Homo sapiens: one gene and its partners. The protein of the gene in region 3 interacts with the protein of the main gene of each other region in a pairwise test. Each region holds a gene or a part of one and is shown on either strand. Other genes may lie near its edges. The genes, in order: CERCAM, SCARA5, P4HA3 and MAGEA2B.

The links.
Region 1: the proteins of P4HA3 (region 3) and CERCAM interact in binary tests that used the Homo sapiens proteins (3 or more experiments, as listed by UniProt).
Region 2: the proteins of P4HA3 (region 3) and SCARA5 interact in binary tests that used the Homo sapiens proteins (3 or more experiments, as listed by UniProt).
Region 4: the proteins of P4HA3 (region 3) and MAGEA2B interact in binary tests that used the Homo sapiens proteins (3 or more experiments, as listed by UniProt).

The regions. Positions count from the first base shown.
Region 1 is NC_000009.12:128,430,857-128,437,847, reverse strand, and holds the end of CERCAM (inactive glycosyltransferase 25 family member 3 isoform a precursor), read right to left. Parts: intron 6,678-6,991; coding exon 6,545-6,677; intron 3,747-6,544; coding exon 3,619-3,746; intron 3,439-3,618; coding exon 3,235-3,438; intron 2,196-3,234; coding exon 1,943-2,195; intron 1,000-1,942; 3' UTR 501-999; downstream 1-500. UniProt on the Homo sapiens protein: Probable cell adhesion protein involved in leukocyte transmigration across the blood-brain barrier. Does not express any beta-galactosyltransferase activity in vitro.
Region 2 is NC_000008.11:27,989,668-27,997,348, forward strand, and holds the start of SCARA5 (scavenger receptor class A member 5), read right to left. Parts: upstream 3,007-7,681; 5' UTR 2,590-3,006; intron 1-2,589. UniProt on the Homo sapiens protein: Ferritin receptor that mediates non-transferrin-dependent delivery of iron. Mediates cellular uptake of ferritin-bound iron by stimulating ferritin endocytosis from the cell surface with consequent iron delivery within the cell.
Region 3 is NC_000011.10:74,266,623-74,273,650, forward strand, and holds the end of P4HA3 (prolyl 4-hydroxylase subunit alpha-3 isoform 1 precursor), read right to left. Parts: intron 6,986-7,028; coding exon 6,923-6,985; intron 3,099-6,922; coding exon 3,030-3,098; intron 1,620-3,029; coding exon 1,523-1,619; intron 1,190-1,522; exon of another isoform or gene 974-1,189; intron 697-973; coding exon 626-696; coding exon of another isoform or gene 439-625; 3' UTR 35-438; downstream 1-34. UniProt on the Homo sapiens protein: Catalyzes the post-translational formation of 4-hydroxyproline in -Xaa-Pro-Gly- sequences in collagens and other proteins.
Region 4 is NC_000023.11:152,709,959-152,717,629, forward strand, and holds the start of MAGEA2B (melanoma-associated antigen 2), read left to right. Parts: upstream 1-4,669; 5' UTR 4,670-4,724; intron 4,725-4,888; exon of another isoform or gene 4,889-4,970; intron 4,971-5,120; 5' UTR 5,121-5,199; intron 5,200-5,998; 5' UTR 5,999-6,118; intron 6,119-6,689; exon of another isoform or gene 6,690-6,787; intron 6,788-6,937; 5' UTR 6,938-7,003; intron 7,004-7,083; 5' UTR 7,084-7,148; coding exon 7,149-7,671. UniProt on the Homo sapiens protein: Reduces p53/TP53 transactivation function through recruitment of HDAC3 to p53/TP53 transcription sites. Also represses p73/TP73 activity. Proposed to enhance ubiquitin ligase activity of RING-type zinc finger-containing E3 ubiquitin-protein ligases.

The DNA of each region.
Region 1 (6,991 bases), on a different chromosome or scaffold from region 3:
TACGTGTATGTGTATATACGTGTATATACACGTATATATGTATATATACGTGTATATATACGTATATACGTGTATATATATGTATATATATAAAGTGGCAGGGTGCAGTGGCTCACGCCTCTCATCCCAGCACTGTGGGAGGCCGAGGTGGATAGATTGTTTGAGCCCAGGAGTTTGAGACCAGCCTGGGCAACATGCAAAACCCAGTCTCTACAAAAAAAAATGTGGCCAGGCATGGTGGCATGTGCCTGTGGTCCAGCTACATGGGAGGCTGAAGCAGGAAGATTGCCTGAGCCCAGGAGGTTGAGGCTGCAGTGAGCTGGGTTTGCGCCATTGCACTTCAGCCTGGGCAACAGAGGGAGACCCTGTGTCAAAAAATATATATATACATACATACATACATACATATATATATATATATATATATATATATATACACATACACATACATACATATATATATATATATATATATACATATATATACATACATATATATATTTAAAGTGCAAATGGCTTTTATTGAGGGCCTACTGTGTGCTGGGCAACATGTCTGCAAGGGTCCTGCTTTACCTCCCTGTACTTTGCACCGGCCAGGGAGGAGGGTGCTGGGGAGACCCAAACATCAAGCTGGGGGAGGGTGCTGAGGTGGAGGTAGAAGGGGGCAGAGGGGCCCCTCAGCTGAGTCCTTAGGGAGGGAAGGGATCCTGGGGTCTGCCCAGCTTGAAACAGAAGCTGGGGGCCACAAGGCCCTGAATCAGGCCAGGCAGGGTACAGGGGCCTGGGAGTCCTGCTCCTTTGCTGTGAGACCTTTAGGGAATGGGATCCATCTCTGAGTGGTTTCTCCCGATGAAAGACAGGTCCAGAGGGCAGAGTGGCCATGCCCAAGGTGGTGGCCAGGTCTGACAGGATCTGCAGTCCCTGCCAACAACCTCCTCCTCTGCTCTCTGGGCAGTAGTGGCCTGCTCCTGGACACTGCTTTGCAGTCATCACCTGGACCTGGTGGGACAGGAGGAGCAGGAAGAGAAAGAGAATTAGAGTCAGACAGAATCAGAGACAGACAGACACTGACAGATATAGGAAAACAGGGGCAGAGACAGACAGAGAGGGAAAAAGCTAGAGAGGGATGCGGAGACAGCTGAAGGTACAATTATAGACAGACACAGAGGCCAGGCACAGTGGCTCACGCCTGTAATCCCCAGCACTTTGGGAGACCGAGACGGCTGGATCATTTGAGGTCAGGAGTTGAAAACCAGCCTGGCCAACATGATGACACCCTGTCTCTACTAAAAATACAAAAGGCCAGGCGCGGTGGCTCACGCCTGTAATCCCAGCACATTGGGAAGCTGAGGCGGGCAGATCACCTCAGGTCAGGAGTTCAAGACCAGCCTGGCCAACATGGTGAAACCCTGTCTCTACTAAAAATACAAAATTTAGCCGGACGTGGTGGTGGGCGCCTGTAGTCCCAACTACTCGGGAGGCTGAGACAGGAGAATCGCTTGAATCCGGGACGCGGGAGGCAGAGGTTGCAGTGAGCTGAGATCATGCCACTGCACTCCAGCCTGGGCAAAAGAGCAAGACTCCATCTCAAAATAAATAAATAAATAAAAATAAAAATAGAAAAATTAGCCAGGCCTTGTGGTGGGTGCCTGTAATCCCAGTTACTGGGGAGGCTGAGGCAGGAGAATCTCTTGAGCCCGAGAGGCAGAGGTTGCAGTGAGCCAAAATCACGCCACTGCACTCCAGCCTGGGCGACAGAGCGAGACTCCGTCTAAAAAAAACAAACAAACAACAACAACAACAAACATAAAGGCAAAGCTAGAGATGGAGAGGGAGAGAGAAGGCTGAGAAGGGGAAAACAGCCCCAGACACAGTTATGCCATCAAAGGGGAGAGCAAGCCAAGGTCTACGGGGCTGGGGCCTCTTCCCGCCCTGGCCTCACCTAGAGCTCATCTCGGGGCTGGGGTTGGAGGCTGTGCCCGCTGCTGCCAGTCAGGTCCAGGCGGGGGCTGCGCAGGGTCTTTTGGGAGCCGCTCCAGCTGATGAGGCGGCCGCTGTCATCATCCCATGGAGAGGATGTCTCCGTGTCACTGAGCCACTCGGCGTCCCCGGCATAGTGGGTAGGGGCAGCGAGCAGGGGCTGGGCGGAGAAGGCCACCAGGTCCCGTGGCCAGAAGTGTGCCTTGTACTGCTCGCTGTAAGGTGAGAGGATAGCTCAGGGGGATTGAGGCGGGCCCCTACTCCCCGGACACATGCCTGCCCGGAGCCAGGCACCTTGCCTGCCCAAAGCACCTCACTCCCCGCCATCTAGTCCTCACAGCGGCCCTGAGCAGTGGGACTTCTACTACCTCCATTTTCCAGATGAGGAAACAGAGGCTGAGAACAAGGAAGTCATTTGATTAAAAACTGCATGCAGCCGAGCGCAGTGGCTCATGCCTATAATCCCAGCACTTTGGGAAGCCGAGACGGGCGGATCACCTGAAGTCGGGAGTTCAAGACTAGCCTGACCAACATGGCAAAACCCCATCTCTACTAAAAACACAAAAATTGAGGCTGGGTACAGTGGCTCATGCCTGTAATCCCGGCACTTTGGGAGGCCCAGGCAGGCAGATCACTTGAGGTCAAGGAGTTCGACACCAGCCTGGCCAACATGGAGAAACCCTGTCTCTACTAAAAATACAAAAAAGTTAGCTTGGTGTGGTGGCAGGCACCTGTAATCCCAGCTACTCAGGAGGCTGAGGCAGGAAAATCAGTTGAACCTGGGAGGCGGAGGTTGCAGTGAGCCAAGATTGCGCCACTGCACCGCACTGGGTGACAGTGCAAAACTCCATCTCAAAAATAAATAAATAAATAAATAAATAAATAAAAATTAGCAGGGTGTGGTGGCACTTCCCTGTAATCCCAGCTACTCAGGAGGCTGAGGCAGCAGAATTGCTTGAACCTGGGAGGCAGAAGGTGCAGTGAGTCAAAATCATGCCACTGCATTCTAGCCTGGGCAACAGAGCAAGACTCCATTTCAAAAAAAAGCCTGCATGCACTGTGCAAAGTACACACCGAGAATGGACTGACTCTAAGGCTAGGCTGAGCCACTCCTTGGTGACCTGGGCCAAGTGGCTTGGCCTTGCCAGTCCCAGTCTCCCCATCTGCCAGGTGAGGGGACTTCCTGCTGACTGAGGTGAGTTCCTGGAGGGGACGCCTCTGCCCTGCCATGCCCGGCCCCCATCAGAGCCTCACTTGGGGTGCTGGTCGAACATGATGGGCAGGAACTCGTCCACGGGCAGCATGCGGCGCAGAGGCTGTGAGGCCAGCAGCTTGCGGGCACCCGCCAGACGCAGGGCATAGGCCAGCGTCCAGTAGGAGTACCCAGCCACCACCAGGCCCGGCAGCCCCTCCACGGCCGTCTCCTTCTCAGGGTTCACCTGCTTCCGTCCGAGGTAGCTGTAAGTGACACCAAGGGGCCCAGGAGTCACTTAGGTCCTGGGTGTCATGGGACCCTCCCACACCCGCTCCTACAGGGCCAGGCTCTCAGGGGATGGGCCGGCCAGGGTCCCAAGCAGGAAAAGGCAGACTCCGGAGGCCCACCCTGCCCCCTTGTCCCTGAGGGTGCAGGCTGCCTACATCAGGTCCCAAGACAGTTTCTCTGCCTCCACATCCTCCATCAGCCGCTCCAGCCGCCCCCTGAAGTTGCTCTCAAAGCGCACGTCATCCTCAAACACCAGGACCCGGGCCAGGCCCCTGGCAACCACCTGTGGCATACAATGGGGTGGGAGATGGCTCTTCGGAGTTAAACAACCCCCCTCCCTCCACGCTGAAGCTCACAGCCTCTGCCTGGCCTCAGTTGGCCTGGCCACATCATGCAGTTGCCCCAAAGCCTGCTGGGGGCCCCACTGCCTGGGACCGGAAATCCCAACCTCGCTCTGGCATTTGAGGATCTCCAGATAGAATCATGATGGTAACCGTGGCCCTTGCTACATTCCCTGAGTGCTACTGTGCCCCAGGGCTGTGCCACTGCGTATCTGCAGGGGCCCTCAGGAGGCAGGAGATGATGATCCTCAATCGCAGGAAGGAGGTGGACATGCAGGGATGGGAAACTGCCTGTCCAAGGACACACAGCCAGGAAGTGGCAGAGCTGGGATATGAACCCGCATCTGCTGAACACCAGGGCCCAGCTTGTCACTTTGGCCTCCTGCAATTTTCCTTTTTTTTTGAGACGAAGTTTCACTCTTGTTGCCCAGACTGGAGTGAAATGGCCCCCCAAGTCAGGGGGCTGCATGGAAGAGGAGCAGGAACGGTGGAGGCCAAAGCAGCCATGGCCAAGACCAGGAGCCATCTCCCCTCCCACTCCTCCAGCTGCCTGAGTGCAAGCATGACAGATGGTGGCTGGGCCCAGAAGCCCAACTCTCTGGGGGCGGGGAAGTGGCTTGCAGTTCCCATCAAAAGATGGTCTTGGCTCACTGCAACCTCTGCCTCCCGGGTTCAAGTGATTCTCCTGCCTCAGCCTCCCAAGTAGCTGGGATTACAGGTGCCCACCACCACACCGGGCTAATTTTTTTTTTTTTTTTTTTTTTTGAGACGGAGTTTTGCTCTGTCGCCCGGGCTGGAGTGCAGTGGCACAATCTCGGCTCACTGCATGCTCCGCCTCCTGGGTTCACGCCATTCTCCTGCCTCAGCCTCCCGAGTAGCTGGGACTACAGGCGCCGCCACCACGCCTGGCTAATTTTTTTGTATTTTTAGTAGAGACAGGGTTTCACCGTGTTAGCCAGGATGGTCTCGATCTCCTGACCTCGTGATCCACCCGCCTCGGCCTCCCAAAGTGCTGGGATTACAGGCGTGAGCCACGGCGCCCGGCCAACGCCGGGCTAATTTTTGTATTTTTAGTAGAGACGGGGTTTCACCACGTTGGCCAGGCTGGTCTTGAACTCCTGACCTCGTGATCTGTCTGCCTCAGCTGGGATTACAGGCGTGAGCCACCGCACCTGGCCTGGCCTCCTGCTATTTTCTAAAGGAAGCTGGGCTGGGTGGGGGGTGGGAAGACCCCAGCCCCGAATATCCAAAAGAAAAAGTACTTTTGATAACTTTTGGAAAAGTTACTTTAGAATAACTTTTGGAAAACTACTTTTGATAACTTCTGTGAAAAGGAAATCAGCTCAGAAAGTAGTGAAGCCAGGAGCGGTGGCTCATGCCTGTAATTCCAGCACTTTTGGAGGCTGAGGTGGGTGGAATCACTTGAGCTCAGGAGTTTGAGATCAGCCTGGCCAACATGGCGAAACCCTGTCTCTACAAAAAATACAAAATTTAGCTGGGTGTGGTGGTGCGCGCCTGTAGTTTCAGCTCCTCGGGGGTGCTGAGGTGGGATAATTGCTTGAGCCCGGGAGGTCCAGGCTGCAGTGAGCCAAGATCACGCCACTGCACTCCCGCCTGGGTGCCAGAGCAATACCCTGTCTCAAAAAAAAAAAAAAAAAAAAAAGTAGTGAACCATGTCATCCTCCAATTTGTTCAGGGACGGTAAAAAAGCCAACATAGGCTGGGCATGGTGACTCAAGCCTGTAATTCCAGCACTTTGGGAGGCCGAGGTGGGCAGATCACCTGAGGTTGGAAGTTCGAGACCAGCCTGACCAATATGGCGAAACCCCCTGTCTACTAAAAATAGAAAAATTAGCCAGGTGTGGTGGCACATGCCTGTAATCCCAGATACTTGGGAGGCTGAGACAGGAGAACCGCTTCAACCCAGGAGGCAGAGGTTGCAATGAGCCAAGATTGTGCCACTGCACTCCAGTCTGGGTGACAGAGCAATACTCCATCTCAGAAAACAAAACAAAACAAAAACCCATAATGCTCACATACACGTGCACATATATTTGGCTATAGCAGAGAACACAAACAAGGAATCCATGTCCCATCTCCTGGAAGGGCTGCCCTTGGAGGGCCCAGTTCCCATTCTCTCCTGCCGTGTCCAGCAACCTCTTTCCTGCGCTCACACTCCCAGCCCCTGGGCCGAGGCTTCTTGGCCAAGTACTGAGCACATGCTAAGCCCCAGGCTTCCTTCTTTCTGCTCCTAAACACCTTCCTGCCTCAGGGCCTTGGCACCCACTGTTCTCTTCTGCCTAGAAGCCTCTTCTCCCGGCCCCTCAATGGTGAGGTCCATTCTGACCCCCTCCCACACGAGGCACCTCTCAAAGTGGCCCATACCTCTCCCCTCCACTGCAAGCTTGGTTTTGATTTCCATAATCCCGCTCTGGTCCCTGAGCCCCAGGGGGATCCCTTTATTGCAGGAAGGAGCAGACATGCATTGTTCCTGTCCTCCTCTGTGTTCTCAGAGCAGAATATCTCCTAGCACATAGTAGATGCTCAAGAGAGACTGCAGAATGAAAACAAGCACCGCTTAGTGGTGCCCACTGGGGTGTTGAACACAGAGGAGATTGAAAGCTGCTGGCCAGGTTTTGATGAATGTCTTCATTCACTCACTCGTTCACAGAGCAGTGAATAGAACAAACTGGCCCCGTTCTCCCCGAAGGCTGTGGATGGAGGAAGCAGGCACCCTCACCTCTTCCCAGATGGAGTAATGGCTGAGGAAGCAGCCCACCTCGCCCTTGGTCAGAGTGCGGCCCGAGTAAGGGTCCTGGTAGCCCGGGAGCAGGTCTACGCCGAGGTTCCTGATGGCACTGCTGTTGAGCATCCTGAGGGACACAGGTGTGGCGGGGTGAGGGGTGCCTGCCAGAGACCCCTCCAGAGGGGCCAGGCCTGTGCATGTTGGGGACAGTCACACTGGAGTCGGGTTTGAAGAAGGTTTCTGCCTTGTAACTCCTTTGTGTGACCTGAAGCTGTCAAGGGACTGGACCTGGGGAACTGGAGCCCCTGTTGCCCAGGCTGGAGTGCAGTGGCACCATCTCAGCTCACTGAAACCTCTACCTCCCAGGTTCAAGTGATTTTCCTGCCTCAGCCTCACAAGTAGCTGAGATTACAGGTGCCCAGCTAATGTTTTTTTTTTTTT
Region 2 (7,681 bases), on a different chromosome or scaffold from region 3:
GGAACAGGGGGTGGTCCTCGGCTCTGCCAGGATCTCTCCTCCCTGCCCCAGACACCACCCACTCTGGCTTCCCTGTGCTGCAGTGGTGTCCAGTTCACTGGGCTCCCAATTCCGGCCCTCCACCCAATGCCTCCACCCAGGCAGGGCCTCTAGGTGGGGCCGCGGGCAGCTCCAGCACTGCTAAGTTGCAAGGGACCCTCCCTCATTTCATGAGCACTGTGTGCGGCAGCCCTCCCTCTGGCTTCACTCCTTGCGGGGCTGTGAAGCAGGAGGCCAATGTCTCTTTTGCCTGCAATAACCCTCCCTCTGCCAAAGGCAATAGCCTCTGCTTCCCAGAGGCCACACAGAGCCAGACAGGGCGCTGCCCCTGGGGAGTGGAGGTGTGAGGCCCCACTGCCATTTCCACCTTCCTCCTCTTCTGGTCAGCTCCTGGGACGGGGCTGGAATGCACGGCTTGTTAGCCAGAATGTGTGTGAAGGGCAGCTGTCTCCTTCCTCCTCCCCACCCCTCAGCTGGTCCAGCAGGAGCCCAGGGGATCTGCTGGGGAGAGGGACTGGGGCCGAGCGGGGCCAGATGTGAGTGCACAGGGCTTGGAAAAGCTCAGACAACTCTACTCATGTTTGTTACTTGGAATTGAAACCTACGCATGTTCTGTCTGCCCAAGGTTTCTTGGGGGCTGTTTTTCTTTCTTGGGGGAGGAAGCAGGCATTGGGACCCTCAGATCATGGATCTTACTGTCTTTGGACCAAGTCTGTGCTCTAGAAGATGAAACTGATGGCAAGTGCTCCTCCCAGGAGCACTGTGTTGGGGGTAGGCTGATGGCATTTGCATTCCGTCCCTCCCATTTTAAACATAAGCCATCCCAGACCAAAGAGGCAAAGGAAGGAATGGATATCAGAGCGGGAAGAGGCCCCGGGCACAGTTTTCCTACACAGGGCACTGGCTCAGCTGCAGGGTTGCTTTGTTTGGGAATTGCATGTCAGCCCCTTTGGTGACCACTTTCTGGGCCCCAGATCAGGCAGAGAAGAGAATCCCACCTCAGACTGCCAGCCAGTGTACTCCAGCAGGTGGGGATCCTGGGACTGAGGCAGGGCTCTGAGAGCTTGAAGCACATGGGCGAGATGTGGAAGCCACAGTGACCTGTGGATGAAGCCCAAGGAGACTGGACCTCAACTTGCAACTCAAAGAGGGAGGTCTTGCTCTAACAGGGAGGTGTCACCCTCTCCACTAACCTCTTGGCAATCATGATTTACTTCCAGACAATTTCACCCAAGGCACTTAGAAGGGCAGGTTCAGAGCCAGGGATCTGCTTCTAGATTCTGCATTTTAGAGCTGGAAAAGCCCTCAGCCATCTGTGCCCTGCAGCCCTGTGCCCTGGGGCCATCTGCGCCCTGCAGGCCTGGCTCTCTGCAGGAATGCAGGGAACACAGAAGCCAAGGGCTCCCATCCTAGCTCCTCTGCGTATTGGTTTCTTGGGGGAACTTGGCTCAATTACCTGACCTCATTCAGCCTCAGGTACATGACCTCTAAGATGGGAAGGTGGGTAGCTGCTGGTCACCCAGGATCACTGTGAGCCTCCCGTGAGATAATGCATGTGGCATGACTTTATGAACAAGGTCACTCAGGGGAGCTGGTGGCAGTCTGATGAGAAAAAGCATCCCCCAGCATCTTCTGACTCTGCCTGGCAGCCAGGTAAGGGGGTGTCCAGGTTCCCAAGGCCTCCCTCCTACCTAGCCAGTCTCAGAAACAAAGCTGTTTGAAGTTCCCTTTGTAAAAGGCAATCGCGAATGCACTCTAGGGCTGATATCAGGACCCTGGCTCTTCAATCCTTCTCTGGAGATCAGAAGGACTCCATTAATTCCTCCTCTGAGTGGGTAGCACGAGCCTCATTTGCTGCTACCAAGTCAGTTTCTCTGGGTACCCGCATCTAACTCTGCAGGGTTTATGGCTTTTCTTTGGATTACCTCACTTTAAACTCATCAAAACCAAGGAAAAAAATCACATGAGTGTGGCCCTTCTCCAAAGAGAGAATCACTAAGGAGGTTTTAAATGTTTTCCTCCTCTAACTGTACTTAGTTAAGCTAAATCATAACCCAAAGCTGGACAGAGACAGATATTTTAGAAATAACCTCTCCCCACATATATCCCACCACTGGCACATGCACACGCACAGACATGCACACACACACACATGCACACACACACACATGCACACACACACATGCACACACACACATGCACACACACGAAGCCATGGAGAGGAGCTGTCACCTGAGCCATCTGCACCCTGAGTAGGCTCTTGAGCTGTGACATGAGTCAGGTGGAGTAGCCACCAAGGCAATAGCTTCCCTCTGGCACCCCAAATGCAGGCTCACATTCTCTCCAGCCCAGGCAGTTGGATGAGGGCCCGGCAGATATCTGCGGGCCCAGCAGGCGGGGACCTTCCCACCTGGAGAAGGCACCTCCAGGCTCTAGGTCTGAAGTTTCCCAAACTCTGTACTCCTCTCCATCCAGTTCACTCCAGTCTCCTCCAGCTGTCTTTGAGACAGCATGCCCAGGAGATAGGACAAAATTAGTACCAAGACTCACCTGAGTGCCCCTGGCTGAGGCTGTAGAGCCTTGTCCCCTCAGATCTCAGCATTTGCCATGGTGGCCAGAGAGCTGGCTGCCACCACGCTGAGAGCCAGGCCGCCCCTCGGACCGCGTCCCCACAGCCAGCCAAATCCAGATGGAGTCATAGAAAGGGGCTGCAGGGGCGCCCAGGGACGAGTCTCAGAGCAGGACCACAGGGGCCACTTCTGCAGGAGGACCAGGTCAAGATGCAACCTGTGGCAGAGTGGGGGTCTGGGCCTGGGGGACCCAGAATGGGGGGTGTGCGCCTGGGACTCCCTGTCCTTGGTGCCTGGTCCTGGGTAGCGATCAGGAGATGTTCTGAGGAGGCACCGGCAGCTCCTCTAGGTACTGCCTGAGATGCGAACTGCAGCTGCTCTCGCCGCCAGTCCGTATAAAATAAAGTTCTTGGAGCAGTTGCGGAGGCTTCTGCAATGGGGTCTGGAATACGGCCCCCCTCCTGCGGCCAATCGTGGCATTACAGCCCCGTGTGGGAACGCCCGCTGGGCCCAGAGCAGCGCGGTCGGCCTTGGCCTTGGGACTCCAACACCCCAGTCTAAAGGTCCTGCTCAAAATACTTTTTGGAAGACTTCTGGGGGAGTGGCAGCTAGACCTGGCTTATGAGCCACGCAAGAAAACCAGTCTTGTAAATTTATTTATAGCACAGAATTGGCATGGCTCAATTCATTCACCAAGCTTGGCACAGAGTTACTTCATGTATTTTCCTGGAGTCACATTCATCCTCAGTGGACACGGATTGGCCACACTGGGGGTAGTCAGGAAAATGCCCCAGGGGGTTCCACGGAACTCAGCAGCAGAATCAGCGTTTCTGGCTCATTAACGCTGCACAGGGGCTGGGGGGTGCAGGATGAAGACTAGCTGGCTGTCCATAGCAATTCAGTATGGGAGGGGGACCCAGGCACGAATAATCCTAAACCTGAGCATGATTGCTTACGTTTGAAAAAGGACATCTAGGCCGGGTGCAGTGACTCACACCTGTGGTCCCAGCACTTTGGGAGGCTGAGGTGGGAGGATTGCTTGAGCCCACCCACAAGTTCAAGACCAGCCTGGGCAACATAGTGAGACCCCATCTCTAAAAAAAAAAAAAATCTCTTTAAAGGCAATCTAACCATATGTGAAGGGAGCTGCTAAATTCAGATTGAGGTGGTAGTATCAGGGGCATCAGAGAAATCACCATAATTGTCCAAGCCAGGGTGGCAGAGTTAGGCTATGCAGATGGCTTCCAGAGGACAGCACCCAGAGGTAACATTCATGAATGCATTCCTGTTTGTTGGTGAAAAGTTCAGCCTCAAGACTCCAGGGTCAGGCTTCGTACATGAAAAGTGTTTGCCAAGACTCAGCTGTGTCACTGCAGCTGCCCGCCCACAGCTGAGTCAGAAACGCCGTCCTCATTCTCAGTGACTGCCCTGCCTGACTGCCTAGGAAGCAGCTCCAACATCAAACTCCATTTTACAGAAAGAACAAATGATAATTGTATCATTATGGTAATAATCCCAGGGAGCGGAGGAGGAGAAGGAAAAGAAGACAACACTTTATAGCATATACCATGTGTTTCTTATATATTAGCTCATTGAACCTATTCAACAACCCCCTGAGGCAGGTGCTGCTATTATGCTCATTTACAGAGACAGAGAGGAAGTGACTTGTCCAGGGTCTTGTAGCCAGTAAGTGGCAGAGCTAGTATTCAACCCTAGGCAATGTGATCCTAGGGTCTATGCTCTTAACCCCTCCCCTGTACCATTGCCTCTCAAGGGGAAACAAATGTTTTTGTCCCCCATCAATTCACCAACATTCCTAGGAATGTAATCTTAAAAACAGCCAGAAATGTGCTCAAAATATGATGTCCAACCAGCCTGGGCAACATGACAAAACCCTGTCTCTACAAAAAAAAAAAAATACAAACAATAGCTGGGCGTGGTGATGCACACCTGTAGTCCCAGGTGCTTGGGAGGCTGAGATGGGAGGATCAACTGAGCCCAGGAGTTTGAGGCTGCAGTGAGCTGTGATCGCACCACTGCACCCCAGACTGGGTAACAGAACAAGATCCTGTCTTAAAAAAAAAAGTGATGTCCAAAGACCTTCCCTAAAGAGATGTGTATGTTAGCAAGAAATGTGGTAGTTAGTGTCCCCCTAAATTCAAGCATTGGAAATGTAATCTTTATTGCAACAGTGTTGGGAGGTGGGGCCTTTGTGGGGGTATTTGAGTCATGAATGTATTTGGGATGCCGTAGAAAGGGCTTGCAGGAGTGGGCTGGCTTGATCCTCTGCCTTTCTGCCATGTGAGGACTCCACGCTCATCCTCGCTTGTCCTCCCACCTCCCGCCCTGTTCGAAGCACTGAGTCCTATTGCGTGATAGGCACATACCACACACAATGTGTATATCGGTCTCCTGCTGAAGGGGGTTTGGGATGTTTCCAATCTTTGTCTATTATGAATAAAGCTGCCGGAACAGGCAAAGGGAGATTTGACAGTGAAGTATAGGAATGACCTGGAGGGCTGGTTTTCTCATGGGTGAGAGTCCTCCCGGCAGCTCTTAGCTCAGATACCTCCTTGCCACTAAAATCAGAATTGTCCCCAAAATGATTTGCTTCCATTCAATCACGGATGGCATTTGTAGTAGGCATTTCCCCCCCAGAAGCTGAATGAAAATGTGATTGCCTTGATAGAGGAGGGTTCAATAGACTTCTGAAGTAGTTTCATCTATGAAATCTCAGTATTTGAAATGGAGGGACCAAGCTTTTTCAGTTTGTTTTTTCTAGAGGTAGGATGTCACTTTATCACCCAGGTCGGAGTACAGTGGCACAATCATAGCTCACTGCAGCCTCGACCTCCCAGGCTCAAGTGATCCTCCCACCTCAACCTCCTGAGTAGCTGGGGCTACAAGCACATGCCACCACACCCAGCTAATTTTTTAAAATCCTTTGTAGAGATGAGGTCTCGCTATCTTGCCCAGGCTGGTCTCAAACTTCTGACCTCGAGCAATCCTCCCGCCTCCACCAGCCAAAGTGCTGGGATTACAGGTGTGAGCCACCATGTCCAGACTCCATTTTTGACTCTGATAAATGGTGCTGCTGTGAACATTCTTGTGTGTGTCTTCTGGGGAACATATGAATGCCATTCTCTTGGGCATATACCTGGGCATGGAATCGCCAGGGCATAGGATGGCCCTGTGTTCAGCTTTGGTAGACACTGCCAAAGAGTTTCCTATGGTGGTTGTACTAGTTTATATCCAGCAGGGGATGAAACTACACTTATTCCTTGTCCTTGTCAGTGTCAGTGATGTTTATTCCATTTTCCCTGCTCTGGTGCATTGTAGAGGTGCCATATTGTGGTTTTAATTTGCATTTTCCTGATGACTCATGAAGTTGAGCACCTTTAATTATGTCATTAAGTCTGATTGTTGACTTGAACTCTGGGCCCGTTACACCAGCAGGTCCTGCCCTATGGCTTGGGGTTGGCTGTTCCATCTGCCTGGAGTGGTTCCACCAGATGTTTGCACAACTAACTTCTTTGCCTCATTCCCATCTTTTCTCAAATGTCACTTTGTTCATGCTGCTGAGCCTAATGATTCCTACCCACAGGCCAGGCATGGTGGCTCACGCCTACAATCCCAGCACTTTGGGAGGCCAAAGCGGGAGGATCACTTAAGGTCAGGAGTTTGAGACCAGCCTGGTCAACATGGTGAAAACCTGTCTCTACCGAAAATACAAAAATTAGCTGGGTGCAGTAGCAGGCACCTGTAGTCCCAGCTACTCGGGAGGCCGAGGTGGGAGGATCACTTGAACCAGGCAGGCCGAAGCTGCAGTGAGCCAGGATTGCACCACTGCACTCCAGCCTGGGTGATAAAGCGAGACCTGATCTCAAATAAATAAATAAATAAAATTGCTACACACCCCTTGCCACTCTTAGTCCCCCTCACCCTGCTTGGTTTTGCTTACTGTCTGCTAGAACAGCAGCTCCAGGAAGGCAGCTCACTTGAGTGCTTCAAAATGCCTAGCAGGGTGCCTGGCGCACAGTACACGCTCCAGAAATATTGGTTGTGTGACAATCTGAGGAAACAGCATCAGGCACAGGGAACAGAAGGCTCAGAGGCCTCAGTATGGAAACACACTGGACATGCCGGAGGGGCAGAGAAAGGCCCAGTGGCCAGAGCACAGAGGATGCAGTGGCCAGAGAGAGGAGGTCAGGGGAGAGGGAAGCCTGGGTCTCACCCTGAGCACAGAGTGGAGCTGAGGCCACGCCCTTCTTTTTTGTCTCTATCTTCTCCCAGGGAACACATCGATCCTGTACTGTTCATATTTTTGCTTCTTTTTTTTTTTTTTTTTACATATTTCTTCATTATAGTTTGCTACTTCTTGTTTAAACTTTTTAAAAAAATTAATTGTGGTAAAACACACATTGCATAAAATTTGCCATCCTAACCCTTATTTATTTGTTTGTTTGTTTGTTTATTTATTTATTTATTTATTTATTTATTGAGACAGAGTCTTACTCTGTGGCCCAGGCTGGAGTGCAGTGGCGTGATCTCAGCTCACTGCAACCTCCACCTCCTGGGCTTAAGCAATTCTCCTGCCTCAGCCTCCCAAGTAGCTGGGATTACAGGGGTGAACCACCACGCCCAGCTAATTTTTGCATTTTTAGTAGAGACGGGGGGTTCGCCATGTTGGCCAGGCTGGTCTCAAACTCAAATGATCCACCCGCCTCAGCTTCCTAAAGTGCTGCGATCACAGGTATGAGTCACCATGCTCAGCCCTAACTGTTTTTAAATACATAGTTCAGTAGTGTTAAGTACATTTGAATTGATGTTCAACCAGTCTCCAGAACTCTTTTCATCTTTCAATACTGAAACTCCACTCATTCAACAACTCCCCGTCCCCTGTCCTCCAGCCCCTGGCACCACTCATTCTCCTTTCTGTCTCTTTGAATTTGACTACCCCAGGGACCTTGCTATTTCTTTATCTGTGGCCTACTCTGCAAAAATACACTCGAAAATGTTTACCTTTAGTATTTTCTTTTTGGTTAGTTTTTAATCTGGTTCACATGAAATAT
Region 3 (7,028 bases):
ATTATAATGTAAGAATATTCTCAGTTGGGAAAAATGATTTATAAACATTTTTAATGACTGTGTTAAAAAACCATCATACAAAAAGAAAAGAAAGTTGTTTTCAACTTAAAAAAAATCCTTATATAATGTACCACTCATCTGGGATATGCTTCTGGGAGGGGGACACTCCCTGCTTGGGCTGCAGCAGAAGGCAGTGGGGAGAAAGTCTTAAAGTTCTGGGAGTCAGGCTAGCCCCTCCTGCAGGTGTCCTCATTGCCACTTCTTGGTCCCTGTGGTCAAGGTTCAAAGTGCCAAAAGACCCACTGATCGAACCTGAGACTGTTGAGATGTCCTGTTCCCAACAGAGAGTATCTGAACTCCAGAAACTTCCCTCTCAGGCCTCCACTCCCCCCTCCTTTGTACTGTGCATCCTACTCTGACTTCCGTGGCTGGGGCAGATCAAATGTACATTCTCAGTGTCCCCTGGTAACAACCTCTCCCTTGCCTCTGATTTGCGAGGCACAGACAAAGCTGACAAGGCCTTCTTCCAGGAGGCTGCTCTGCTTTCTCCTCTCCTACCCCAGCTTTTGGCTCCTGGCTTCTCTGGAAAGCCACAGGACTCCACCAGCTTCTCTCTGCCAACAGTTCAGTCTTCAGGGCTGGAGCTGCAGGGTCTGCGGAATTCCTGTCCATACTCATGTATCCACTTGTTGGCCACTGGGAGAGAACAGGGAAGAAGGAGACAGCAGGCTCAGCAGAACAGACAGCAGCAATGCTGCAGACTGGTGCGCACTCATAGGCGCGTGTGAGTGCCCCCTTAAATTCTGCATCCTAGGTAACTCACTTGCCCAGCCTAGTCCTGGCCTCACTATGGACTACAAGCTGTTTCTTCCAGCAGATAAATAGCAAAGAGGACATTGTCCTCTGGAAAAAAGTCACAGGTCCTGTCTCCTGTAAACTCATTTTCAAACGTTTGGGAACTAAGATCACTCACCCTTCATTTTAGAAGCCCATGTTCCCCATGAAGCCATTCCAGAGTACTGAGAGAAAAACGGGTGGCATCTCCTGGCAGCCTCCACCTCAGCTTATGAGCCCCCTTCCACTTCTCTTTCTGTTTCAGAGCTAAGTGCTCCTGGATGTATATGTGACATAAACACGTCCATCTGCTTATTGATCTCTTCTTTGTTTTCCCACCTCCTCATGGGGAGCACTAAACAGGAGAGACAATGGCTTGACACATCTTTCCTTGGGGTAGAGTGTGGATGGGACACCATATTCCTCTCTGGCAGTGCTCAGGAATCAAGGCCTATCTGGTCAGGTGAATAAACCTTTACTGACTGTCACTCTGTAACAGGAACCCCTGCCTGTTATAGGCTCCCAGTCTGTTGGGGGCACCTCATTCATAATCTGATCTTCTCAATATAATGTGGCACTGTAATGAAGCGTTTGGAATGGGATGGCTGTGGTAGGTCCCACCCATCCCCTGTTTCACTCTACTCTGCACCCTGTACCCCCTTCTCATGCCCAGAAAGGCAAGACTTACCCCACTTATCTCCCACCAGGACAGGACAGCCAGCATGAAGTGTGTCACTGTCCCCTTCACCACTCCTGTGCAGGTTCCACCAAAACAGTGCTGCATTCTGAAACAAGAGGGCCCAGCCCCAGGGAGGGTCAGCCCAGAACCTCAGTCCTCGGGAAGCACATACTAAGGACAAATGCAGGCATGTCATTGAAGAAGCCTTTCCATGCAGTCTGGGGGCAATGCATGCATAAAATGGCACAAAATGGCATAAGTTGCCATTTACTCCTTCATGCATGGGTCACTGACAGAGTCCCCTGCACCCCAGGTCCTGGGGCTGCAGGGACAAATTACGTCCAGTTCTGCTCTCCAGGAGCTCACAAGAAACAGACATAAAACAGACCTGAACAAGACAGCATGGTGAGTTCTGGGAGAAAGGTGAGCACATTTGTCATTGGGTCACTGAGGAGAAACACCGAACAAAACCACAAGGTGGAACAAAATATTCCCATACAGCCAAGCATGTCATTAACTCAGAAGCTTTTCCTCCCTCAGGCACTTATGATTAACACTTTCAGGGAGCAGGCAGTATCATAATCCCCAGTTTCCTAGCAAAGAACTTGAGGCCCAGGGCTTTAAATAATGCAATAAAAGAAGGAGCAAAGTGAGGACTCAAGCCCAGGTGTTCTGACGCTAAATCCTGTATGTTTTTCCCCCATACACGGCTTCTTTGCCGTATCTACTTCCTGTAGTCAAATTACTTTAACCTTGGTCCTCAAAGTAGACAAAACTCCAGGTCATGAAGAGCTTTCCAGGATGCATTGGCAGTCTCTATGTTCCTAAGCCTACAAGAGGCGTCAAGCTCCTGAGTATTCAGAGATACCTGGCATTGATTATCGAATGCTCAGGATGTGCCAGGCACTGTACTACCTGCTTTACAGGAATGATCTCGTTTAGTTATCTTCATTTCATTCCTAAATTAGGTAAGGGCTGCCAGGGAGTTGGACTGATCTGAAATTTGGAGGAAATACTCATTCATGAAGCAAACCTCTTAGACTCAGTTCTCCTCAGCGCCTATCCTTTCCAAATCCCTATTGCAACATCATAATGCCTGCTGACGTCTCTGTAAACTCCTGGATCAAAGGGCTATGAATTTCCCTCTGCACCCTCCGTGCCTCTAGCTCTCAATGTGGACTGAACTAATGATGGAAGGAACTAGATGCTGTAGAGGATCCAAAGTAAATAAAACAGAGCTCTTATCTTGAGGAGCTGTACTGTGACAGGGAAGACAGACATGTAATCATCTACTTGCAATATAAGTGTAAATAAAATAACAAATAGAGGCACAAGTGACGAGCATGTGTGCGGTAGTAAAGAAGACTATGGGATGATCTGTGATTCTGGGAATTGGGGAAGACCTCTTTTTGGCCCTCCTCCCAGGAATGGGCTTGCAAGCACAGACAGCGTGAAGGTTAGAGGGTAAGCGCTGCACTCCCTCAACCCCGTCTTCTGGGACCAGGGCCCCACTCACCCTAACCACAGGCACGCTGAGGTTGGCATAGATGAAGGCTGTGGCTCCTCCAGCTTCCACCGAGCTCAGCTACAAGACCAGAGGAAGAAGCCAGAGTTAAAACTGCCACCGACTTCCCTACCCTGTCATATGATGTCACATCTGCATAGATTCCTTCTCATGGTCTTTTCTTCAACTCTGAGAGAAATACTTGAAAGACAATCATCCAACTCAGGAGGAACTTCGGGAGCCTACTCAATGGCATTGGTGTTTGCCTACAGGGCCACAAGAGGACAATGTTTTGGTATTCTTCCTTTCTTTCCCTTCCAGCTAACATCCTTATTGAGGGCTACAATAAGTAGATTCAAACTTTTTGACTGAGACCCTTAGGAAAAAATACATTTTAAATAATGACCCAAGACACACACACATACACACACACACAGACACATACACACACACACCTCCTGAAATATAATTGTCATAAAACATTCTTAATATCTGAGATAGCTTCTGATCTTCTCTACTTTATTTTATTCTATTCTAGTGTGGTTCTCTTAAATGCTCATCAGAACCACTAAATTAATCTCACAACCTATAATGGATCATGACTTGTGGCTTGAAAACCAGTTTAGACTATGATTCTTCTTGAAAGCTGGGCATCATAGGAACTACTTATTACACCTTTGGCATATTCTCCAGATCACTCTGCTCCTCTCCAGGGAACCCAAGCTAAGGAGTTTCATCACTGGTCTGTTCTAGGACTATGGATATGTTTTCTTAATGTGAAGCTTTTTTTCTGGTTGTCACAGAAATATATAATAATTGTAAACTGTTTTAAAACAGGAAAATATTTTTAAATAACAATAATTATCATTGTACCATCCAGAAAAAAGTTATAGTTTACATAGTGATAGTTGACATTTATTGGGCACTGACTATATGCTAAAAGTTACACTATGTCCTTGCAAATATATTATCTCATTTATTCCTCAGAACAATCCTAGGAGTTACAATCGTTATTATTTTTAACTCTTCACATTTTACAGATAAAGAAACCAAGTCTCAGAGAGCTTAAGCACTTTATAAAAGGTCACATGGCTCTTCCATGATGGAGTCAGGATTTGAGCTGAGCTGGTGCCATGTGACTACAAAGTCCCTGCTCATAACCATCATGCTACACATTTGGAAATTTAGGTCATATCCAAATGTTTACTATTATAAACAACACTGCACTGAACAACTTAATGAAAAAAAATCATTTTGCATTTTGGATTGTTTTCATAGGAAAGAGTCTTGGCACTAGTATTATGGGGTCAAAAGGACATGCATAAGTTTCATACTTCTTATACATTTTGCTAAATTATTTTTTCAGCAGTTGCATCACACAAGAGTGCCAGTTTTACCTCACGCTGCCTAGCATTATCTACCAGAAGGTTCATGCTCTGTAATCTTATGGCAGTCAGATCCCGGTACATTTACTTGTGTTACAGAGCAAGAGGTATAGGAGGTAGGACGCTGGCCCTTGGTAGATGCAAGTGAACTGACATGGTGATTTGGAACCTGGAAATGGCAGTGGTGACTATTAGCATTCCTTGGCTCTCCCTGTAGCACACTGGGAAAGCCGATGAGAACAACAATTGGCTCCTTGTGTTCAGGTAACAAATTAGATTATTCTATTCTAGCCCTTGTCAGTAAGGGGCAACCTGGACTTTCCTGCATTCTTTTACCTGTGGTTTTACAATATGGTGGAAAGGAATGACATAGCCAACACATTAAAAAGAAAATCGGATTCTGCATGCAATGAAGCTCATGAGCACGGCATGGGCTGTAAGAACAGTGGGAAAGGGAGAGAAATCTTCCGTCTGTATACCTTCTACTATTTTGTACTGGGGCTGATCTTTTTTTTTTAATAGAGACAGGGTCTCACTATGTTACCCAGGCTGGACTCGAACTGCTGGGCTCAAGCGATCTTCTTGCTTGAGCCTGCCAAGTAGCGGGGACTACAGGTGCACACCACCGCACCCAGATTGGGACTGATCTTATGTCCAATCTGAGCAGAAAATCACCAACTGGACTTCAACTCAATCCTCTGTACTTCTTAAAGATTATTTTCTCCCTATAAAATCAGTCTTAGGTTTCCCACAAACCTTAACATTTGTCTTGAGAAATGTTTGTCTTGAAATTGTCTCGAGAAATCCCAACCTGAAGATGAAAGACTTGGGCATAATCTAGCACTTCCCTGGTCCCATGATACTGATTCCCCTTTATGATACCCTTTCCTTTAATTGCTCTGTGGGATACAATGACAGAAACATACAGTATGGAACTTTCCAGAGTGACATCCCTCCTTACATTATCTCATCAGACCCTCACAACAACACTGTGAGGAAGCACAGGGCAAAAAGTGAGCTCACATAATAGATGTAATCTGTGCTGAGGCCACATAGTAAGTGGCAAAATCAGGATTAGGTCAACTGACTCCAAATCCAAAGTGTATTCCATTCCACTCTGTCTCAAATACTTAAAACCCAAATGCACATGCATGCACACACATGTGAAAGTGCATGAGAGTGCATGCACACACATACACACACACACACACACACACATGCATTTGCCATTTAAAATTACTGGGCTCTTATACCCACGCTACCTTCGCTATAGTAACTGGGGCCCTGTAACCAGGGAACCAGCCATAGGAGATATTGAGGGGATAAAGAACAGAGATATATTGTGCCCTAGATGCCCTGTTTTTTGGCAGCAGTTCATTCTTTCGCCGTTTGTGACCTCCCATAACAGCTGGAGTGGTCAACCAGAGATGCAACCAACTGCAGCTCCAAGATGTGTCCCCTGCCTGATAGCTGACCTCAGAATGATCAGAATGAGGCCAGACACCATTGTAAGTGGAAGCCTTCCAGTTCCATAGGAAGTACAGAACTGAGCCACATAGAGAAACACACTGGAATTGCTGGCATTAAAGACTACACAGAATGCTGGCCTCTGACTGCCCTTTCTTGGCTGTCCTGTGGAGACCAGAGACAGTCCTAATAGAAGAGGAAAAGCTGGGGTGAGGGATGTCTGCTATTCTAATGAGGCTGAAACAAGGACTTCATCTTTGGTTGTTATATAGAACCCTTATATATGTTTGTCCCTTCAGTTAACAGTAAGGTATCTCTTCTAATAAGTGATTAATTCTAATATTCTCTTCCAGTGACAGGTGATTGGAAGCTTGTCCATAGAGACGAAAGTAAACCCACATGATCTGAAGGGAAGGGGACAGGTGAGATGATACAGACTGGGGCCGAATCCTGATCAGGCCAGGAATTAGGAGAGAAGTACAATTTATTGGTTTATCTTGAAAGGGGAGTCATGGAGATTTTACTGAAGATTTTATAGAGAGATAAGGAAGAGAATTTTCACTAAACATCAGAGGCAGCACTTGCTGAATTTCTCTCAGTGTCTCTGTTCTTCCCTCTTGTAAATCTGCTGCCTCATTCCTCATCCATCTCCCTCCCCACAGCCCCACAACCTCATCTATGGGTTGTTTTTCAACACTGATTAGTCCATGAGACCTCAAGGACACAGATTCTCAGATCCTCCTCCTGTGTTGTTCAAGTCCCTCTATCTCTTGGCCTTCAGTGGAGCTCCACTTCCCATCCTAATCCACTGCCCATACCAAGGTCATATTTAGATTTACACACTGTCAGCCTCTTTCAGGGTAGAAACCTTGTCTTGTATTTCTTTACATCTCCTACAGTGCCTATCAAAAATGCTGTCTGAAATTCGCAAAATTCCTGGAGATTTTTGCGCTGAGTACCAGATAAAATCAATACGTGAAATTGCTTTGAAAACAATAAAATAAAGTAGAGCTATAGTCAGTCATGAAGTAAGAAGCCCAGAGCAATACTCACATAGATCATAAATGTTGCAACTCGGTTTCCTGACTTCATTCTGTAGAGGGGGCTGCTTGGTGACTGAGAAAAAAAAAAACAGAACATATTATTTTATGCAGATGGC
Region 4 (7,671 bases), on a different chromosome or scaffold from region 3:
GGTTTTCCAACAAAAGGTGTCGGAACAATTAGACACCTATACACAAATTATAATAACCTGGACATATCCTTACATATTCCATGAAAACTAACTCAAGATACATCATAGGTCTAATGAAAAATGCAAAAACAATACAACCTCTATAAGAAAACATAAGAGAAAATCCACATAACTTTGAGTTTGGTGATGAGTTTTTAAATTCAACACCAAAAGCATGATCAAGGAAAGAAAAATTTGCCAAGTTGATTTTATTAAAATAAAAATCTTATGCTCTTCAAAGGACAATGTTAAGAGAATGAAAACAGAAGCCACAGACTAGCAGAAAACATCTGCGGTACACATATGTGATAAAGAACTTGTCTCTACAATATATGCGAATTCTTAAAGCTCAATGATAGAAAAAATGAAAATAGTCAAAGATCTGAACACACACTACACAAAAGAAGATATACACATGGCAAATAAGCATAATAAAAGTACTGAGCACCCTTTGGCATTAGATAATTGTGTACTAAAATGGGATACCACTGCACACCTATCAGAATGTCCAAAATCCATAGAAAACCAAAACAAAGAATACAAGACCAAGAACAATTGCCAGCGAAGATGTGGAGCAACGGAAACTCTCCTTCATTGCTGGTAGAAATGCAAAATGGCACAGCCACTTTGGAAGGCAGTTTGGCGTTTTCTTAAAAAAATGAAAATAGACTTAGCACAAGATTCAGCAGCCATACTCAATCAATTTACCCAATTGATTTGAAAACTTATGTCTACATAAAAATTTGTATATGAATGTATACAATAGCTTATTTCATAATCACCAAAAATAGAAGCATCCAAAATGTATTTCATTTGGTGAATGGATATATATATATATATATATATATATATATATATATATATATAACCAGACATTGATACTACTCCTCAATGAAAAGGAATAAGTTCCAAGCCACACAAAGTTATACATGACTCTTCAGTTCATTATGCTAAGTGAAAGAAACCAGTCTAAAAAGGCTACATAGTATAAGATTCTATTTATATGACATTCTGGAAAATGCAAAATTATAAAGATGAAAAACCTATCAGTGGTGGCCATGGGGTTTATCCGACAAGCACAAGGGAATTTATCAGGGCAGTGAAACTGGTATGCATAATACTGCAATGGTGGTTCCGTGCTTGCTTTGGTCTGAATATTTGTGTTGCCACAAAATTCATCTGCTGAATTACCAAGGTGATGGTATTAGGCAGAAGGTGGGGTATTTGGAGAATGACTAGATCATGAGAGCAGAGTCCTCATGAATGGGATTAGTGTTTTTATAAAACAGACTCCACGGAGATCCCTTATCCCTTCTTGCATGTGAGGATCTAGGGAAAAGGCAGCTGTCTATGAACTAGGGAGCAGGACTCCACCAGACATGAAATCTGCCAGCACCTTGATCTTGGACTTCCCAACCTCCAGAATGTGAGAAATAAAGTTGCGTTGTCTATAAGCCACCCAGTCTATCACTATTTTTGTTATGGAAGCCCAAACGGACTAAGACAATGGCACGAGGCATTTGTCAAAACCCATAGATCTTTACAGCACAAAGAGTGAAGCTTAATGTATGTAAAGTTTAAAAGTAACTTAAGAGGTTGGAGAATCACGGGACGGCAGGTAGAATGTTCCACACACACACACACACACACACACACCTAGTTGTATAATAGATATATGAAACCACCACAATGAAGCAAGTGGGGGGAAAAGTTAACACATTTTGTACTCCATCAAAGAAATATATATTTTATAAAGTTTAAGTTGGCCAGATAAGTGTGTAACATAGTTGAACATTTGATAATCATTTATTTAATTTTTTAGATATGAAAACTATCGGCTTTTTGTTTTAAAAAAATCCTTATCTTTTAAAAATGCATATTAAGTTATTTAGAGATGAAATGGTCTAATGCCTTAGATTTACTCCACGTTATTCCAGCAGCTCATATGCAGGTAGGCGAGTGTTTAACTGGAACCAGATTTGCTGTGTATTTAAAGATGTTCATGCTCGGTATCAAGTATCCTGGGTTCATTATATTCGTTCCTGTTATTCTGTATGTGTGAAGGCTTTCCCTAATAAAACTTTTTTATCATAAATATGCCATTAAAAGTGAAATCCTAAATGAAACTGACCACTTTGTAGAAATAAAATAAATCAGTAACCAAACTGATCCAAAGAGGAAAAGAAAACTTTAACTATACAACAGAAACTGTACAATATTCAAAGCTCAAGCCACCCTCAAACATTCCAGGTTAGACAGCTTTGGAGGCCAATTTTACCAAATGATCAGGGAAAACTAACCACCGCCTTATATCAACTCTTCCAGAACATACAAAAGACTGACAATTGTTCAGTTCATTCTCCCAGGCTAGCCCTCCTGGATTTAAAAACCAGATGAGGACCACATACCTCCCCTGATGGAAAAAGAACACATCAAGTAAGCTCTCTTACACAGCAGTAAATATCCTACATAAATTAGTAGTACATTAAACGAATAAACAGGCTCTGCCCAAGGAAATAAAATATGATTTAACATTAGAAAAAACATCTGTTTCATTGTGATTCCTTACATACAAAATGGAAGAGAAAAAAATTTGATCCTGCCAACGGGTACAGAAAAAGCTTTTTAAATAAATTTAATATGAATTCATGGTAAAAAAGAAAATATTTAGGCAACCTATACTGAAAGAGAACTTCCATTTCCTAAAATCAACAGCAAACATACTTAAATGTCAAATGTTCGAAGAATTATCATTCAAGTCAGGAACGAGAAGTAGATGTAGCCTATTATCTCTACATTTGAAATCAGGATTGAGACACAAAGAGCTGTAAGTACCGAAATGAGTGAGTGGTATGAACATTGGAAAAACATGTAGTGTTTAGTGATAATACCATTATCGATCTTGAAAATTCAAAGGAAAAGGTATGCGGAATATTCAAGTGCATCGGCCTTCAGAACGAGGTATGCAACAGATTACTACAGCAAAATCAAAATCTTCACCTCACGAAAGCAATAACTAACTACAACAATTGATAGACAATATGCCACTTGCAATAGCAACAAAATCCAAGAATTACCTGAATAGAAGCCTAATAAAAATGTATAAGTTGTTTATAGAGGCAACTACCGAAGTATACTGACATATTCAGGAAAAAAGAGCTTGAAATCCATAGAGGAGTATAACATATTCATTCACGGGGAACACAACAGTGTAAAAATGTAAACTCAGCTTAAATTATTTACAATTTAGTGCCTTACCTGTAGCCGCCGACATTACAAGCAAATTTGGGCTGCTGTGCTCTGCTTCCCAAATCAACCCTGTAAATTTATAGAATGGAAACAGAAAGTAAAACACCAGTATCAGCAAGAAAATCTACACAACAAAACAGGGAAAGCCCAGAGTGAGACTGGAGACTGTGTTGAGCTGGTACTTGTGTGTGACACTTGCAGTGTCTGTTGGAGGGGGTTAGCGGCAGAGATGTTGGGGAGGTTTGTAGCCTGCCTAGACGGCAGATGAAAGAATGGGTAGAATAAAAGTTTTGAATTTTCCACTTCACTTCATTGCACAATCTGAGGCAGCCCCTGAAAACACGATGCCAAGAGCCCTAGGTAATAGCAGTGTCCACCAGGAAAATTGGGTTTGTTAAGGCAGCATGGCTCCAGAGTTCTGCTAATAACAACCTGAAACCAACAGAGTGGGAGAGGAATTATGTTTTTTAAAAAAATTCTTTCAACAGAACACAAAGACTGGAATGGAAGTAGACTAGGATATCAGAGTGAATCATGCATACTAAGGGTAGGTGTTAGTTCATAGAAATAAATATATATATTGCTACCTACATATATACTTAGAAGATATGTAAACCGTATTTCTTCAATTCAGAGAATAAATCATTTAGGACCAAAGGTTTGCCAAGTGTAGCTCTGGCTGGGGAGGAGCCCCCGTGGGAAGGTGTGCGTCTTCTCCCAGAGGTCACTATCATCGCGGGAGCTCCTGCCCTGCAGGGAGCACCTGGCCTGGCACCCGCAGCCATTCTCTACAAGGGGTGCAGATGCGCAGATGCGCAGATGCTCAGAGGTGACAGAAACAGAGCATCTCCCACCCATTCCTTCATCAAACAGCCAGGAGTGAGGAAGAGGACCCTCCTGAGTGAGGACTGAGGATCCACCCTCACCCACATAGTGGGACCACAGAATCCAGCTCAGCCCCTCTTGTCAGCCCTGGTACACACTGGCAATGATCTCACCCCGAGCACACCCCTCCCCCCAATGCCACTTCGGGCCGACTCAGAGTCAGAGACTTGGTCTGAGGGGAGCAAACACAATCGGCAGAGGATGGCGGTCCAGGCTCAGTCTGGCATCCAAGTCAGGACCTTGAGGGATGACCAAAGGCCCCTCCCACCCCCAACTCCCCCGACCCCACCAGGATCTACAGCCTCAGGATCCCCGTCCCAATCCCTACCCCTACACCAACACCATCTTCATGCTTACCCCCACCCCCCCATCCAGATCCCCATCCGGGCAGAATCCGGTTCCACCCTTGCCGTGAACCCAGGGAAGTCACGGGCCCGGATGTGACGCCACTGACTTGCGCATTGGAGGTCAGAGGACAGCGAGATTCTCGCCCTGAGCAACGGCCTGACGTCGGCGGAGGGAAGCAGGCGCAGGCTCCGTGAGGAGGCAAGGTAAGACGCCGAGGGAGGACTGAGGCGGGCCTCACCCCAGACAGAGGGCCCCCAATAATCCAGCGCTGCCTCTGCTGCCGGGCCTGGACCACCCTGCAGGGGAAGACTTCTCAGGCTGAGTCGCCACCACCTCACCCCGCCACCCCCCGCCGCTTTAACCGCAGGGAACTCTGGCGTAAGAGCTTTGTGTGACCAGGGCAGGGCTGGTTAGAAGTGCTCAGGGCCCAGACTCAGCCAGGAATCAAGGTCAGGACCCCAAGAGGGGACTGAGGGCAACCCACCCCCTACCCTCACTACCAATCCCATCCCCCAACACCAACCCCACCCCCATCCCTCAAACACCAACCCCACCCCCAAACCCCATTCCCATCTCCTCCCCCACCACCATCCTGGCAGAATCCGGGCTTTGCCCCTGCAATCAACCCACGGAAGCTCCGGGAATGGCGGCCAAGCACGCGGATCCTGACGTTCACATGTACGGCTAAGGGAGGGAAGGGGTTGGGTCTCGTGAGTATGGCCTTTGGGATGCAGAGGAAGGGCCCAGGCCCTCCTGGAAGACAGTGGAGTCCTTAGGGGACCCAGCATGCCAGGACAGGGGGCCCACTGTACCCCTGTCTCAAACTGAGCCACCTTTTCATTCAGCCGCGGGAATCCTAGGGATGCAGACCCACTTCAGCAGGGGGTTGGGGCCCAGCCCTGCGAGGAGTCAAGGGGAGGAAGAAGAGGGAGGACTGAGGGGACCTTGGAGTCCAGATCAGTGGCAACCTTGGGCTGGGGGATCCTGGGCACAGTGGCCGAATGTGCCCCGTGCTCATTGCACCTTCAGGGTGACAGAGAGTTGAGGGCTGTGGTCTGAGGGCTGGGACTTCAGGTCAGCAGAGGGAGGAATCCCAGGATCTGCCGGACCCAAGGTGTGCCCCCTTCATGAGGACTGGGGATACCCCCGGCCCAGAAAGAAGGGATGCCACAGAGTCTGGCCGTCCCTTGTTCTTAGCTCTGGGGGAACCTGATCAGGGATGGCCCTAAGTGACAATCTCATTTGTACCACAGGCAGGAGGTTGGGGAACCCTCAGGGAGATAAGGTGTTGGTGTAAAGAGGAGCTGTCTGCTCATTTCAGGGGGTTGGGGGTTGAGAAAGGGCAGTCCCTGGCAGGAGTAAAGATGAGTAACCCACAGGAGGCCATCATAACGTTCACCCTAGAACCAAAGGGGTCAGCCCTGGACAACGCACGTGGGGGTAACAGGATGTGGCCCCTCCTCACTTCTGTTTCCAGATCTCAGGGAGTTGATGACCTTGTTTTCAGAAGGTGACTCAGGTCAACACAGGGGCCCCCATCTGGTCGACAGATGCAGTGGTTCTAGGATCTGCCAAGCATCCAGGTGGAGAGCCTGAGGTAGGATTGAGGGTACTCCTGGGCCAGAATGCAGACAGGGGGCCCCATAGAAATCTGCCCTGCCCCTGCGGTTACTTCAGAGACCCTGGGCAGGGCTGTCAGCTGAAGTCCCTCCATTATCCTGGGATCTTTGATGTCAGGGAAGGGGAGGCCTTGGTCTGAAGGGGCTGGAGTCAGGTCAGTAGAGGGAGGGTCTCAGGCCCTGCCAGGAGTGGACGTGAGGACCAAGCGGACTCGTCACCCAGGACACCTGGACTCCAATGAATTTGGACATCTCTCGTTGTCCTTCGCGGGAGGACCTGGTCACGTATGGCCAGATGTGGGTCCCCTCATCTCCTTCTGTACCATATCAGGGATGTGAGTTCTTGACATGAGAGATTCTCAAGCCAGCAAAAGGGTGGGATTAGGCCCTACAAGGAGAAAGGTGAGGGCCCTGAGTGAGCACAGAGGGGACCCTCCACCCAAGTAGAGTGGGGACCTCACGGAGTCTGGCCAACCCTGCTGAGACTTCTGGGAATCCGTGGCTGTGCTTGCAGTCTGCACACTGAAGGCCCGTGCATTCCTCTCCCAGGAATCAGGAGCTCCAGGAACCAGGCAGTGAGGCCTTGGTCTGAGTCAGTGTCCTCAGGTCACAGAGCAGAGGGGACGCAGACAGTGCCAACACTGAAGGTTTGCCTGGAATGCACACCAAGGGCCCCACCCGCCCAGAACAAATGGGACTCCAGAGGGCCTGGCCTCACCCTCCCTATTCTCAGTCCTGCAGCCTGAGCATGTGCTGGCCGGCTGTACCCTGAGGTGCCCTCCCACTTCCTCCTTCAGGTTCTGAGGGGGACAGGCTGACAAGTAGGACCCGAGGCACTGGAGGAGCATTGAAGGAGAAGATCTGTAAGTAAGCCTTTGTCAGAGCCTCCAAGGTTCAGTTCAGTTCTCACCTAAGGCCTCACACACGCTCCTTCTCTCCCCAGGCCTGTGGGTCTTCATTGCCCAGCTCCTGCCCGCACTCCTGCCTGCTGCCCTGACCAGAGTCATCATGCCTCTTGAGCAGAGGAGTCAGCACTGCAAGCCTGAAGAAGGCCTTGAGGCCCGAGGAGAGGCCCTGGGCCTGGTGGGTGCGCAGGCTCCTGCTACTGAGGAGCAGCAGACCGCTTCTTCCTCTTCTACTCTAGTGGAAGTTACCCTGGGGGAGGTGCCTGCTGCCGACTCACCGAGTCCTCCCCACAGTCCTCAGGGAGCCTCCAGCTTCTCGACTACCATCAACTACACTCTTTGGAGACAATCCGATGAGGGCTCCAGCAACCAAGAAGAGGAGGGGCCAAGAATGTTTCCCGACCTGGAGTCCGAGTTCCAAGCAGCAATCAGTAGGAAGATGGTTGAGTTGGTTCATTTTCTGCTCCTCAAGTATCGAGCCAGGGAGCCGGTCACAAAGGCAGAAATGCTGGAGAGTGTCCTCAGAAATTGCCAGGACTTCTTTCCCGTGATCTTCAGCAAAGCCTCCGAGTACTTGCAGCTGGTCTTTGGCATCGAGGTGGTGGAAGTGGTCCCCATCAGCCACT